Regions from separate parts of the Homo sapiens genome. Here region 2 is linked to region 1. The links come from fine-mapping of genetic effects on gene expression. Tissue or cell type: adrenal gland. Region 1 holds a variant in brackets; the other region holds the start of a gene. All regions are shown on one strand. Distances are from middle to middle.

Region 1 (4,236 bases):
GTCCAGCGATTGGTTGCCCCAGCCCGCCTTCAGATAGCCCTGTCCTTAGTCCCCGCATCTTGCCCAGCAGACTCTTCTCCACTCACTGGCTCTGCCTGGCTCCCCAGCCCATCCAGCTCCCCTGGTTCTGGTCTCAGGCAAGCCTTCCAGCCCCGCAGCCCACCTAGGCTTCTTCAGACCCATGACGAAGGCCTCCAGAATCTTGAGGACATCATTGGGGTGGATGACCCAGGGGGAGGGTGGGGTCTCCTCCTCTTCCTCCTTCTCCCCTTCCACCAGGCTTTCTTCCTTTTCTCCCTCCATCTCCGTCTGCTCTGCCAGCTCCAATTCTGACCTCGTGCTTGTCTCCTCCATGCTCGCCTTCTCCATGCTCGCCTGACTGCAGGGCTTGATCTGGAGAAAGATGCACGGACAACTGTGGGCTGGGGACACACGAGCATGAGCATGGAGAGAGAGGCAGGAAGAAGAAAAACCAGAAAAGTTTACAGAAAGTGACAGCTTGCCCAGGGAGACATTTACACAGGGACAGAAACAGGAGAAAGAGTGGGAAGAAGGGGGATGGGATGGGGAGAGGCACTAGGAGGCTACGAGAAAATGGAAAGGTTCTGTTTCTAAATCCGGGCTCCTAGGTGCTCACCTTACTGACATTCATAAAGCTTACATGTTAGAAATCTTCTTTTGAATCATAATACAGATTAAATTTTTGCTTTAATTGTTAAATTTAAAAGGTCTTCCTCCTACTCCTATTTTGCAGTTCATGCAATTGACCTCCCACAGGCAAACGAATGCTATCAAGTTTCCTATGGTTCCTTCCAAGGAAATAGTATGTCTATATAATGTTTATATATAAATACATGCGCATACCTTTCCATATATACTCCTCCTTCTCGTTTTGACATCAATGATACTATACTACAAATAGAGTTCTGTAGTTTGCTTTTACACTTACCAATAAACCTTAGGTACCTTTTCATGTGAATACATAAAGAACTTTGGTTTTTTCCCACAGTTTTATAGTACCCCATCGTGTAGACATACCATATATTATTAAATAGATTCCTCAACAATGGACATATAGGTTGTTTCGAATCTTCTGCCATTTCAAACAATGTACAGTGAATCAGCTACAATAAATACACCATTTCAACTGTAATGAGATATATTTAGAGAATAAAATCCTAGAAGAAGAATTTCAGAGGCCAAGGTGGGCAGATCATTTGAGGTCAGGAGTTCGAGAGCAGCCTGGCCAACATGGTGAAACCACATCTCTACTAAAAATACAAAAATTAGCCGGGCGTGGTGGCAGGTGCCTGTAATCAATCCCAGCTACTCAGGAGGCTGAGGCAGGAGAATGGCTTGAACCTGGGAGATGGAGGTTGTAGTGAGCCGAGATCGTGCCACTGCACTCCAGCCTGGGCAACAGAGTGAGACTCTGTCTCAAAAAAAAGAAGAAGAATTTCAGAGTAAAATGTATATAGTTTTGTAATTGATACTGCCAAACTGTCCTCAATGGAGGTTACAATTTATACTCCTACCAGTAACTTATGAGTGTGCCTGTTTTCTACACCTCAGTCATCGCTATGTTATACTTGCTGTGTTATCAAGCTTTTTTTTTTTTTGCGCCAACATAACAGGTTGGCAAAATGGAAATCAGCCATTTTAATTTGCATTTCTCTTATTACAAGGAAGGCTGATTGTCTTTTCATATGTTTAAGAGTTACCTGTATTGCCTCTTCTAGGAGTTGTTCATTCATATTTGTTATCTGTTCCTTTTGTTGGTCTTTTTCTTATTGATTTCAGAGAGCTCTTTATATATTAAGGAAATGCCTTAACTATGATATGAGTTGAAAATATTTCTCTGCAGCTTGTCATTCATCTCTTAACTTTGCTTATCATGATTTTTGCACTACAGAATTGTTTTTAAATTCTGTAGTCAAATATAGCTTTTATTCCCTTTATGGCTTTGTGGTTTTGTCCATTTCTGCCAGCTCTTTTTTTCTTTTCTCTTTTTTTTCCCTTAGAGACAGTGTCTCACACTCTGTCACCCAGGCTGAAATGCAGTGGTGAAATCATGGCTCACTGCAGCCTCAACCTCATCATGGCTCACTGCAGCCTCAACCTTCTGGGCTAAACTGAGCCTCCCAAGTAGCTGGAACTATAGGCATGAGCCACTGTGCCTAGCCCAGCCAACTCTTTTTACAGGCATGTCAGGATACTCAGCTTTGGGCTAGCAGTACTAAAAACATTTTTCATTCACATTTTTCATTTTTAAATTAAAATGTTATATGACTTTTAATATGGCATCTTCTTTAAAATAGTTAATATTTGATTCACCTTCTGAAATCAATTACAATCAAGATATGTAGGACAAATGGGCCTTGCCTTGCGGGAAAGTGTTAAGGATCAAAATATTCAGAA[C/T]CTGGTGGGCTCTGGTCTCACAGTGGCTGAGACCTGGTTTTGAGGGAGGGTGCAGGAAAAGATTGCTTGGGCCTCAGTATAAGAACAGCATCTCACCCCCAAGCCATTCTTCCCTTTACAAAGAGACAAATTGATAAACAATAAGGGAAATGCTAAGTTAGCTATACCTGACATAAAAGCCCCGCTATTTCTCCAGAAGTGCTACTCAAAGACAGCACTGTGCTCTGGGGGCTTCGGGACAATTGAAAATGCAGGGACATGGATGAAGCTGGAAACCATCATTCCCAGCAAACGATCACAAGATCAGAAAACCAAACACCGCATGTTCTCACTCATAAATGGGAGTTGAACAATGAGAACACATGGACACAGGGAGGGAAACATAACACACCGGGGCCTGTCGGGGGGTGGGGGCTAGGGGAGGGATAACATTAGGAGAAATACCTAATGTAGGTGATGGGTTGATGGGTGCAGCAAACCACCAGAGCACATGTATACCTATGTAACAAACCTGCATGTTCTGCACATGTAACCCAGAACTTAAAGTATAATAAAATAAATAAATAAATAAGAAAGAAAGAAAATGCTTTCTTCTCTCTGCACCTTGCCTTACCTGGAGGCTGGAAGATAAACGGTGAGCTCGATATTTAAGGAAGAAGTTCACCAGTTTATACAAGTCATCCTCACTTTCAATTCCAAGGGCCTGGGGCGAAAAACAGGATGGTTGCTCAAACACCCCATCAAGAGGCCACGGGCTTGGGCAGCTGACAGATGCTCAGCTCCTAAGAGCGGGAGGCTTGGCTTGTGGAGGGCATTCATCCAACGCTGGGAAGCGACTGTGAACTTGGGGACACACACATCAGAACACACGGAAACAATGCTCATAGAGCCAGGAGCTGCTCCATATGGATCCCATGGCTGTGAGGATGCCTAGTGGGGCTGCACCAGATTTGAGTTTGGGGGTGTCAGGGAGAACCTACAACCTGAGAGGAAGATGCTAGTAGAGGAAGAGGCAGGGGTGGGAGACACTGCAGTGAGTCTGAGACCAATGTGTTGTGTGGAGAGTAGGTTAAGGGAAGGATGTGACAGGGAGCAGGGGAAGCCCCGGGAGACCCTCGTCCACTGCCAGGGTTGAGGCAATGGCAGGGCCATCTGAGAACACGGCCGGCTGCAGCCCCACCCGTGTCCTCCCAGCCCCGTTGGACTCACGGAGAAGATGGCATCCAGCCTCAGCAGATAGCATTCATTCTGCTCCAGGGGCAGGAGAAGGCTCAGCAGCTTGCTCTCTATGAGGAACCCCTGGGGAGAAGGAAGAAGGCATCTCCTGTCGGGGACAGGTTTCAGGAGCGAGTCCCAGGGTCTGCAGCTGCCCCCTGTGTAACACTCCAGGGACCATGCCACGGAGCAGACGCCCAGGGATGGGAGCCAGCAGTGGGCCCCAGCAAAGCCTTCTTGGGGTGCCCATGAACGCCCCCCTCCCCAGGGAGCAAGGCCAGAGACAAGCAAGGCCAGGGACAAAGCCCATCCTCACCACAGACTTAGCTTTTCCCACCCAGAAGGGCACCAACCCACCTCACCCACAAGCCACTAGGCAAACTCCTGAGGCCCCCACCACAGTCCAAAGCTGACCCAGTCACAGGCTCCTGCTTCACCCATAGTCTTGTCCCCAAATATCTACAGAACACAGCAGCAGGACAGGGAGGCATGGAAAGCAGTGGGCACCCCAAACCAAAACACAGCACACATGCGGTGGAAGGGAGAGGGCGGCTGAGCAGATGCGGTGCCCGCTCTGAGCTGGGATGCCTGGGGGAGAGCTCC
Region 2 (4,236 bases), 190 kb before region 1:
TAGTAGAGATGGGGCTTCATCATATTGATCAGTCTGGTCTCGAACTCTTGACCTCAGGTGATCTGCCTGCCTCGGCCTCCAAAAGTGCTGGGATTACAGGCATGAGCCACCATGCCCGGCCCAGGCCCAACTTTTAAAAGTAGTAATATAATTTACCCTTATTTTTGTTTGTTTTGAAACAGGGTCTCACTCTGTCACCCAGGCTGGAGTACAGAGGCACGATCTTGGCTCACTGCAACCTCCACCTCCTGGGTTCAAGCGATTCTCATACCTCAACCTCCCCAGTAGCTGGGACTACAGACACACGCCACCACACCTGGCTAATTTTTGTATTTTTAGTAGAGATGGGATTTCGCCATGTTAGCCAGGCTGGTAATTTACCCTTTATTGAGAACTCAATACATAGCAGGTATCTTGCTAAATAAGAGCTTCACATACACCCATCATTTTATTTTATGCCTGCAATACTTATGAAGTAGGGATTTATCATTCCCCTTTTACAGATGAGGAAACTGAGGCTTACAGTATTTTATGACTTGCTTGAGGTGATGCAGTAAGAAGAGATGCTGCCAGGCCTTTCAGATTTCAGAGCCCATGTTCTTAACCACCGCATGATAACAGCAACTTAAATGCCACCACCTACATGAAAGCTTGGTGCCCAGCAAGCCTTTCCTCTTCTAAACACTCGTAACTCTGTACTCTTCCCCGTCTGTGACATCTGCCTCCATCTGCTTTAGTGTGTGTATATATGTGTGTGTGTGTATGTGTGTGTGTGTGGTGAGCACACATTTCTTTTTTTTTTTTTTTTTTCTTACTCCCTTAAAAGAGCATGAAGAGCATACGTTCCTTGAGGGTTGAAGTCATGTTCAGTCCTCTCTCTCCCAGGGTCAAGCCAAGTCCCTGGCACACTGTGGATATTCTACCTGTGTCTGGTGAGCAGATGAAGGAATGAGGGCCCCGGGTTTCCTTCTGCCAGGCTCTATCCCCATGGAGGACAGTCAAAGAAAAAGCAGGCAGTTGCACTTCAGAGATATAAATAAGCGTCATCAGAGAATCACTGGGATGTTTACTCAGGAGAGCATAGGGAAGATGTGTTCTAGAACAAGGAGACCAGCCTTTCATGACAAAGGTGGGTGTGCAGACCCTCCTGGAGGCAGGGGAGGGAGTGATGGCTTCTGGAAGGCCCTCCTGGCCTGTGATGTTGATGCCTGTGCTGGACGTTGTCTCTGTCTGCCCATCCTGCTCCGCCCTGTTCTCTTCCCTGTAGGAGATCACAGAAAGAGGAGAGAGTGGGGCTGGGGTGGTGCTTCCAGGTGGGTGGTGCTGGGTCGGGTAGCAGCTCTTTGTTGTTGGGCTCAGGAGTCTGTGTTATCCAGTTATCCATGTGACTTCCCTACACCCTGAACACATCTTTGTGGAGAGTCCTTTTTTTAGACCCTTTTCACATGATCCTGATTTGATGGTGCCCTTTGTTCCTGCAGAGACCCTGACTGATGGGGTGGAACGCCCTTTTCTGTACTTTTTGGGCCACTCCCTGAGGTTGGATCTATGCTGATATATTTCGGCATCCCCATGCCTGGCATAGTCCTGGGGTTGTGGTTCCTTGTTTATTTTTTATTTTGATTTGTTAGAGACAAGGTCTTGCTCTGTCACCCAGGCTGAAGTGCAGTGGTATGATCATCGCTCACTGCAGCCATGAACTCCTGGGCTCAAACGATCCTCCTGCCTCAGCCTCCTGAGTAGCTGGGACTACAGGTGTGCTGGTGTGCACCTCTGCACCCAGCAGGTTGTAGGGTTTTTTTGTTTTTTTGAGACAGGGTCCTAGGCTGGAGTGCAGTGGTGCGATCTTGGCTCTCTGCAACCTCTACCTCCCAGGTTCAAGCGATTCTCCCATCGTAGCCTCTGGAGTCACTGGGACTACAGGTCATGCCACCATGCCAGCTAATTTTTGTATTTTTTGGTAGAGACAGGGTTTCTGCATGTTGGCCAGGCTGGTAGCAAACGCCTCACCTCAAGTGATCCACCAGACTTGGCCTCCCAAAGTATTGGGATTAGAGGCGTGAGCCACCATGCCCAGCTAGGTTGTGGTTCAAATAGCTAGCATTTATTGAGCACTTACTATGTGCCTGACATTATTCCCTGTATTCGTCAATCCTCACAACAATCCCATGATTATCATCCCCACTTACAGATGAGGAAACTAAGACACACAGATATTGAAGAGCTTGTCCCAGGTTACAATGGGGTGGATCTGGGATTGGAGCCCAGGCACTGTGACTCCTGAGCTGACAGTGTGACTCTCAGCCCCATCTTTGGACTGCCTTTCTGCTTGTTGTATGGGACTGATGCCTCTTAGCTTTGGGATTGAAAATAATTTGCTTCTTTGCTAACTCAGCAACTCAGGTGGAATGGGAATGAAAAGAATTTGTTTCTTTGCCAACTCAGTAACTCAGGTGGAATGGGCAGAAGGTGGAATGTAGGTCACCATGGCAACTGGATCAACGAGGTGCCTCAGCTGGCGAGTCCTTGAGGCTGAGGTTCTACTGCTGGCAGACAGAAAGGTGTGGTTGGCATGGGGCAATGCTTGAGGTATCAGATGCACTGGGAGGACCTGGAAGAGTACCAGGTGGGTAGATCGGGCTAGGGACTCTGGGCAGAGGTGGGAGCTTCCTAAAGCAGGTGGAATGAATGGGAAAATTCCTTCCTGACGCTCTAGCAGGGGTGTCCAATTTTTGGCTTCCCTGGGCCACATTGGAAGAAGAATTGTCTTGGGCCACACATAAAATACACTAACACTAATGCTTGCTGATGAGCTAATAAAAAAAAATCACGAAAAAATCTGATAATGTTTTAAGAAAGTTTACAAATATGTGTTGGGACCCCATTCAAAGCTGTCCTGGGCTGCATGTGGCCTGCAGGCCGTGGGTTGGACAAGCTTGCTCTAGAGTTTACCAGGCGGGGTAGCGGTGGTCCCTCTCTTTGCTAAATCTGCATCCATGTGGCCCAGATGAGATCTCTAAGGTTACCTTCCTCCATCTGTCTCCTGCACCAGAGCCCAGAGTTTCACTCTTGTCTCTGATCTGCTCTCCACATCTGTGCCAATGCCCTCCTTCCCAGGGCTGTAAGAGACTAGGGGGTAAGAAAGAGCACCATTTCCTCTCCTGCTGCCACCTCAGGCATCCACCTCAACCTGGGGTTCCCCCAGCTGTGCAGCAAAAGAATGGGCATTTCCTCCCCAGCCTCTGAATTGCGCCACTCCCCAGGGGCCACAGCAGGGATGAATGGAGTGGACACGTCGCTTCTCTGTGATTTGTTGCAGGCCCTGACCTTCCTGACCAGAAATGAAATTCTGTGGTGAGTAGAAGCCCCGCCCCTCTTTCCTTCTCCCAGCTCCTCCCTCTGAGCTGGATTCTTGCCCTAATACAGCCTCACGCTGGTCCCTGAGTGTGGTCCCTGCTCAGAGCCACACAGCCCTGGAGATGGGGCTGGGACACGGCAGGCAGGGATGGGAGGGCCCAGGGGCCACGATCCGCAGAGCCCCACTGGAGCTGAATGAGACACCAGGCTTTAGGCTGCTAACCTTTTACTGGGATCCAAAGTGAGGTTTCTTCAGAGGATCATGGAGCTGGACAGAACCTCTTTGGAATAATGAGGAGAACAAGGAAAGGACTTGGGGAACTTATGTCTGAAGCCCATTTTGGCTGTCCACTGGCTGGGTAAACTTGGATGCATGACTGAAGCCCAGACTTCCCTCTCCACCTCCCTCCCTCCCTCCCTCCCTCCCTGCCCTTTCTCCGGTGCCTGTGATGTGCTGGCCTCGTGGAGGCCCTGAGGGTGGGGTGGTGAGCAGCCCCGCTCCCTGTTGTCATGCGGACCGCTGTCCAGTGGGGAAGAAACTTCATTCAACGTGGAGGTGGCCAAATACCCTTCTCGTGGGGCTGTGGGGGAGAGTGAATAGTGTGAGAGGTGTGTGTGTGTTTGTGTGTTTGGGCCAAGCCAGGTGCCCAACAAAACCTGTTAGATGAATAAAGGAGCTCACCAAGACACTTTCAGGGGAAGGTGGGGGAAGGTTCCCTCTCATCATCTTTGCTTGGACTAACCCTCCCCAGTCACCACACGGAAGCCACATTTCCCACTCAGGGTCTGGTGGTGGCAGGTAACAACTTTGTCACAAGTGCAAGACTCTCCAGGCACAAATGAGGATGGGGGATGGCCAGGGCACGGGGAGCTAACCAG

Direction of the effects. Positions count from the first base shown, and alleles are read on the strand shown. Sizes are in standard deviations (SD) of each study's normalised expression.
In carriers of allele C in region 1, the expression in adrenal gland of the gene that starts at base 2,521 in region 2 tends to be higher than with T alone (moderate effect, 0.73 SD a copy in GTEx).

Evidence for each region. PIP is the estimated chance that this variant, and not a neighbour inherited with it, causes the effect. A credible set is the group of variants that fine-mapping cannot tell apart.
Region 2: CIB4 starts here. The variant in region 1 is the best candidate, but not a certain one, in a credible set for the expression of CIB4 in adrenal gland (GTEx, PIP 0.63).

The regions. Positions count from the first base shown.
Region 1 is chr2:26,449,477-26,453,712 of GRCh38, reverse strand. DRC1 (dynein regulatory complex subunit 1) reads right to left here. Exons shown (of 17, transcript NM_145038.5): 12 at 3,628-3,717; 13 at 3,032-3,121; 14 at 164-393. Among named protein-coding and RNA genes, the nearest start is that of DRC1, 50 kb to the right of the region's middle. The variant C/T (reference allele first, on the strand shown) is at 2,419.
Region 2 is chr2:26,639,651-26,643,886 of GRCh38, reverse strand. CIB4 (calcium and integrin binding family member 4) reads left to right here and starts at 2,521. Exons shown (of 7, transcript NM_001029881.3): 1 at 2,521-2,626; 2 at 3,320-3,354. The coding sequence starts at 2,573.